2 linked regions of the Homo sapiens genome follow. The protein of the gene in region 2 purifies or fractionates together with the protein of the main gene of each other region. This does not show direct contact. Each region holds a gene or a part of one and is shown on either strand. Other genes may lie near its edges.

What was found. The genes of interacting proteins can lie anywhere in the genome.
Region 1: the proteins of DLGAP5 (region 2) and SLBP purify together in Homo sapiens (co-immunoprecipitation; one large-scale study listed by IntAct). This does not show direct contact.

The regions. Positions count from the first base shown.
Region 1 is NC_000004.12:1,698,820-1,702,319, reverse strand, and holds part of SLBP (histone RNA hairpin-binding protein), read left to right. Parts: intron 1-2,249; coding exon 2,250-2,309; intron 2,310-2,618; coding exon 2,619-2,756; intron 2,757-3,500. UniProt on the Homo sapiens protein: RNA-binding protein involved in the histone pre-mRNA processing.
Region 2 is NC_000014.9:55,153,586-55,157,085, forward strand, and holds part of DLGAP5 (disks large-associated protein 5), read right to left. Parts: intron 1,222-3,500; coding exon 1,032-1,221; intron 1-1,031. UniProt on the Homo sapiens protein: Potential cell cycle regulator that may play a role in carcinogenesis of cancer cells. Mitotic phosphoprotein regulated by the ubiquitin-proteasome pathway.

The sequences.
Region 1 (3,500 bases), on a different chromosome or scaffold from region 2:
ATGTATGCCTTGGTAGAAGAAATGAACTAGGAGTTCACAGATGAGAGTACCAGTGTTTTTAGTGAATTATTGCATTTATATAGGTCTTGACTTCCTCAATTATAAAATTAGAATGTTTGACTTGACTTGTATAGTTTGTGTTGCATGCACAAGTCTTAGAACAGTTCTTGCATACCGATAGCCTAGTTGCTCCCTCAAGTCACCCCTTGCCAGGGGTTATCTGCAGCTCTTATTCATGCGTATTCCACCTGTCCAGATTGTCCTGTGAGTGGACCCTATTTGTTCTTCAGATATCTCATGGGTCTGTGCCTGAAAATTGTCCTGTTTTGGAAAACAGCACTGTTTGGGCTGCTCTGTTGATTATACCCTTTGTGATGGAAAGCTACGGCTTTTATTTACTTACTTATTTTTTTGAGATGGAGTCTTGCTCTGTTTCCCAGGCTGGAGTGTAATGATGCAATCTCAGCTCACTGCAACTTCCGCTTCCTAGGTTCAAGCGATTCTCCTGCCTCAGCCTCTCGAGTAGCTGGGATTATAGCTGTGTGCCACCACGTCCGGCTAATTTTTGTATTTTTAGTAGAGGCTAGGTTTCACCATATTGGCCAGGCTGGTCTTGAACTCCTGACCTCAGGTGATTTGCCCGCCTCGGCCTCCCAAAGTGTTGGGATTATAGGCGTGATCCACCTTGCCTGGCCAAAGCTGCAGCTTTTAGTGCAACCTGTGTAATTTAAACTGCTGGCCCTTTAGTGAGCCATTACTGACAGGCCGGCTTACTTCCTGACAGTAAGAGCGGTATGAAATGTCAGCTTACTATGCTTTAAGGAGACTAACAGACTACAAACTAGCAATATAAGAGTATGAAAATGGATTTTCTGCATGGCATGGTGGCTCACACCTGTAATCGCAGTACTTTGGGAGGCCAAGGCGGGCGGATCACCTGAGATCAGGAGTTCGAGACCAGCCTGACGAACATGGAGAAACCCCGTCTCTACTAAAAATACTAAAAATTAGCCAGGCGTGGTGGCAGCAACCTGTAATCTCAGCTACTCAGGAGGCTGAGGCAGGAGAATCGCTTGGACCCGGGAGGCGGAGGTTGCACTGAGCCGAGATCTCGCCATTGCACTCCAGTCTGGGCAACAAGAGGGAACTCCGTCTCAAAAAAAAAAAAAAAAAGAAAAAAAAGAAAATGGATTTTCATCATACCTGAAAACCAGTCTTTCTCATCTGTGGTACTGGAGAGAATGAGGCCCTGCAGCAAATGATTTGCAGGACTAATCTCTGAATCGTACAAAGATGGTGTTATATAGCCAGTGCTACTCTAGATGCACGGGAGATAAATTACTTCATTACCTTCTGGCGTCCAAACTGCACTGAACACCTCAGCAAACTTGGGTGGATTTTAGATTTTGAGAGGAGGCACAGTAATACATGACATAATTTAGATACCTGCATGACAGGCCAGGGGTGGTGGCTCACTCCTGATCTCAGTACTTTTGAGAGGCTGAGGCGGGAGGATTGCTTGAGCTCAGGAGTTCAAGAGCAGCCTGGGCAACACAGACCTCCATGTCTCCAAAAAAAGAAAAAAATTTTTTTGGAGATGGTTGTGGCGGCACTTGCCTGGAGTCCTAGCTGCTTGGGAGGCTGAGGTGAGATGATTGCTTCAGCCCAGGAATATGAGGCTGTGGTAAGCCATGATCGTGCTACTGTACTCTAGCCTGGGTGACAGAGTGAGACCCCATCTCAAAAAAAAAAAGATACTCACATGAACTTGGAGCTCAAGGTAGCTCGTGGTTTCAACGTCAGATTGCGCTAGACTCCTTTTGGAGATGTCATACTTTTTTTTTTGCAAAACTGCGTTCTGGTAATGACTGCAATAGAAAGCAGATGCCTCAGGAAGTTCATGAGGAACAAGAGAAAAGGGGGCACGTTTGGTCTCCAGGATTGGAGAAGGTATGCAGTGCCCAGTAGGCATATGAGTCCCATTAGTAAGTTTGGTGTTTTTAAAATAATTTATTTCAATTTATGTTTTGTTTTTCTTTTTTTAAGGCTGCCAAGTTTTAGGGAATGTAAATTTTTGTTGTGTGGATCTCACTACTTAAACTGAACCTGACAAAGATTTCTTTTGGCCCACGGAGCTTCTGGATTGCATAGGATGGTGTGCCTGCGGGCATCAGGGTGGAGCTTCCTCAGACCTGGCTGCTTTATTTTTATATCTTTTTTAAAAACAGCAATATTTATTTTGCCCTCAGATATAAAAGGAAACTCCTCATCAATGACTTTGGAAGAGAGAGAAAATCATCATCAGGAAGGTAAAGGCTGTGTAAATGTTTCTTTTCTAATTTGATAGACCTGTAATTTGTTAAAAAAAAAAAATTGTGACTGTCAGAAATGCTGACTGTCGCAGTAGCATTTATTAATACCTTTTTCACTAATTTGAAATACTGTATCTGTTGTGTACTAAATTCCCATACATGCAGTCTCCGGACTATTTAGGATTCATATGGTTGGGAATCTGGAGTGAATCTTCCATTATTGTGTTTTGACATTTTCTTGGCTTACCTTACATACATGGTGATCTTAATTGCAGGGCTTATTCTGTTAATCTGTTGTTTTTTCAGTTCTGATTCAAAGGAGTCTATGTCTACTGTGCCGGCTGACTTTGAGACAGATGAAAGTGTCCTAATGAGGAGACAGAAGCAGATCAACTATGGGAAGAACACAATTGCCTACGATCGTTATATTAAAGAAGTCCCAAGGTAGTCTTGTTTCAGTGGCATGTCTTGAACAAGCTGTGTGGCATTGCGTTTCTAAAGAGTTGCTTAGATTGGGTAGTACAAATGATGCTGGGGATAGTTCACACCTGCTAAGAGCTATTTAATAGGGACTTACTGGGGCTTATGACGTAAATAAAGAATGGATTGGCAACTGGAAAACTAAAGACATGAAGATTTTAAAAATCATTTTCATATAATTTTGAATGTTAGATAACATTTTATTTCTTAGGAGTCAGCAATCATAGATGTAAGCTTATTAAAATACATGATGGGGAAAAATGAAGTTCAAGTTAAATATTGTAAAATTCTAATTGGAGAAAAAAAAATTGGCATTGCCCTATTGTCTTTAAGCAGCATGTTCTTGCCTATCCTGGTCCCTCAAACACACAGACACAGAAGGATATAAAGAAAGCTTTAGTGTTTTCCTGAACTTTTTGGCAGGATTGGGGTTGAAATTTACATTTCTGGGCCAGGTGCAATGGCTCATGCTTGTAATTCCAGCACTTTGGGAGGCCGAGAGGACTGCTTGAGGCCAGGAGACTAGCCTGGGCAATATAAGGAGACCTCATCTCTACAAAAAATTTAAAAATTAGCCAGGTGTGGTGGTTTGCACCTGTAGTCCCAGCTACTTGGGAGACAGGTGGGAGAACTGCTTCAGCCCAGGAATTCAACGTTACAGTGAACCATTAATCACACCACTGCACTCCAGCCTGGGCTGCAGAGTAT
Region 2 (3,500 bases):
TAAAAAAGATATGCTCTATTTTTCTAGTGTCCAGCTTTACTTTGCCTTTATTACACAAAGTTGCTTATTTGTATGATGCCCTTTGAGGATGTTTTGGGGAATCCAAAACATTTTTAAAGAGTACTTATGACTCAAATGCAATTATGAATCTTCTTAGCAAACAATAGTAAACTACAAGATATACAAAGTAGGCCGGGCATGGTGGCTCACGCCTGTAATCCCAGCACTTTGGGAGGCCAAGGCTGGCAGATCATGAGGTCAAGAGATCAAGACCATCCTGGCCAACATAGTGAAACCCCGTCTCTACTAAAAATACAAAAATTAGCTGGGCGTGGTGGCGCGTGTCTGTAGTCCTAGCTACTCGGGAGGCTGAGGCAGAAGAATCGCTTGAACCCAGGAGGCAGAGGTTGCAGTAAGCCGAAATCGTACCACTGCACTCCAGCCTAGGCAACAGAGTGAGACTCCACCTCCAAAAAACAAACAAAAAAATCTAGAAGCATATCTAGCCCATAACAGTTGTTCAGTACACATTAACTCCCCCCCCTTCAATATGCTCTGCCATCTGTCAAGAAAACAATCTCAAGGTACTTTCTACAAAGCCTGGTAAAAAGTGTCCATCTCTCAACCACCTTGGGGAGGCATTAGCACTGCTGCTTTGTAGATGATGAAAGTGAAGCTAAAGAGAATTAATTACTTGCCCCAAAGTTGCATAGCTAGTAAGTCACAGAGCTCTTCTCAGCTCAGAACTGTTGAGCACCAAAGTTGTAGTATGTTTAGCACCAAAGGATACCATATTGCTTCTTTTCTTCTTACTGCTGCAGAATTTACCCAACTAAACGTGACCATTTAGTATCCTGAAACCTTAAGCTTTAGTTTCCTCATTTATAAAAAGGGAGTACTGCCTATATGTTGCAGGGTCATTATGAAATTTATTAAAAATATATGTCTGGCACCTTTTACCATCTTAACAATCTGAAATGGTATTTAGTATCAGCAACTGTTAAACTCTTATTAACATGTTAAAGAAATACCTGCTTTCAGGAATACTCAAAAACAAAGTCTTCTTCACATGTTCACTTTTCGTATTCTGAGGACCGGCATTTTCTGGTGATGTAGTTTGTTGTGGAATGCCCATCTCATTTCTACTCTGAGATACAGCTTTGTTGACAGACTTAGGTGTTCCAAGTCTTTGAGAAGGGCCTTCAGAAGAGACAGAAAGTCCTAGAAGATGAGAGAAATCACCTCAATACCAAATAGTTCTTTTGCTTTTCATTATAACTAGGAATACGGTGAAAATCCTATCAATTAGCCTCTTTCTCCTGTCAAATAATGTCTGTTAAAGACAAATGCCTGGGACTTTCTGTTAAAGATAGTATTTAAATGCATATTAGATGCTGCTTCCTTTTGACATCCCACTACTTTTACATGAACAGAGATAATTTTTTTGTTGTTGTTGAGACAGAGTCTTACACTGTCACCCAGGCTGGAGTGCAGTGGTGTGATCTCTCGGCTCACTGCAACCTCCGCCTCCCAGCTTCAAGTGATTCTCTTGCCTCAGCCTCCCCAGTAGCTGGGACTACAGATGCATGCCACCACGCCTGGCTAATTTTTGTATTTTTAGTAGAGATGAGGTTTCACCATGTTGGCCAGGCTGGTCTCGAACTCCTGACCTCAGGTGATCCACCTGCCTCAGATTCCCAAAGTGCTGGGATTAGAGGTGTGAGCCACTGCGCCAGGCCTGAACAGAGATAACCTTTTTTTTTGTTTTTGTTTTTTTAGAGATGGAGTTTCATTCTTGTTGCCCAGGCTGGAGTGTAATGGCATGATCTTGGCTCACTGCAACCTCCGCCTCCTGGGTTCAAGTGATTCTCCTGCCTCAGCCTCCCGAGTAGCTGGGATTACAGGCACCCGCCACCACGCCTGGCTAATTTTTTGTATTTTTAGTAGAGATGAGGTTTCACCATGTTGGCCAGGCTGGTCTCGAACTCCTGACCTCAGGTGATCCACCTGCCTCAGCCTCCCAAAGTACTGGGATTACAGGTGTGAGCCACCGTGCCTGGACACAGATAATCTTAAAAAGCAGAACTCTACAAGGACAAAGGAAACTAAAGAAGAGATAGCAACAATAACAATATTTTGGAAGCTATAATGTAGATTGTTGAGTGGGACTTAGCAGACTCAAGAAAACTAATTCTAAGCCACCAATCAAGAAAAATGAATTGGCCGGGCGCGGTGGCTCATGCCTGTGATCCCAGCACTTTGGGAGGCTGAGGCAGGTGGATCACGGGGCCAGAAGATCGAGACCATCCTGGCTAACATGGTAAAACCCCGTCTCTACTAAAAAAATACCAAAAAATCAGCCGGGTGTGGTGGCAGGCGCCTGTAGTCCCAGCTACTTGGGAGGCTGAGGTAGGAGAATGGCGTGAACCCAGGAGGCGGAGCTTGCAGTGTGCTGAGATCGTGCCACTGCACTCCAGCCTGGGCAATAGAGTGAGACTCTGCCTCAAAAAAAAAAAAGAAAGAAAAATGAGAATCAACCCAATTTCTACCACATAACCCCTCAAAAGAACTGGTGGCTCCAAGTATCTCTGCAAGTGGAGATGAAAATGGAGCTAAACACAGAAGGAATGGCTCAAAGTCAGTTTAAACAAGAAGAGCTCAGATTCCTTTCCTCATTCTGCACAGCAAAGCAACTGTCATCACCCACCCCCATCACCAAAAACAGAAGGGTCTCTGGTTTAGAGGATACCAGATACAGTTGAGAGACAGGGTACTACATGGAAAATAAGGGAAATAAGTGAATATTTACACAAAGTGTTGAGACACTTAGCTTTCTTCCCCTACATGGCTCCTGAAAGACTGGCAGCCAGAATGATACCTTCCAGGAAGCAGATGGAAAGCATCTTCTCTGGGGAATCTGAGTAGACTATGAGAAAAGTCTTAAATGCAGTGATGTGTAGGTTCCCAGCATAATGGCCCCGCTAACAGAAGGGCCCCGAAAGTAAAGGTCCTACCCATGTGCAGAGAGTTTCCAGTCAGCTTTTTAGTGCCCTATTCTTAACCATGTGCAGGCAGTGAGAGATCACCAGATTCCCGAGGAAAGCCTCTAAATACAAGAGACAGAAACCAAAAACAACTAGATGAAAGTACCCTGAAACAAATACTGTCTATAGTGGATGAAGAAAACATAAAAGCTATCATTAATATCCTTGGAAAGATAAAACAATACACTGATGAAACAAGTGCAGAATGTTATAAAATGAACATTTGGAGAGTAAGAAAGGGCTCTTGGGAATTAAAAACATGATAGCCAGCATGAAAGTTGAGGAAATCTCCAGGAAGTAGAAGAAAACAGTAAGTACAGGAAAGAAAGATTAAAAAGTCTACCAGAAGAAAAATGTGTTTTTGAAAAAGATCAAACCTTGTCAAGAGAGATGGTGGTAAACAACAAAACTCCAGTAAGACTCCAGTAAGTCCAAAAGACTCCAGTAAGAATTGAA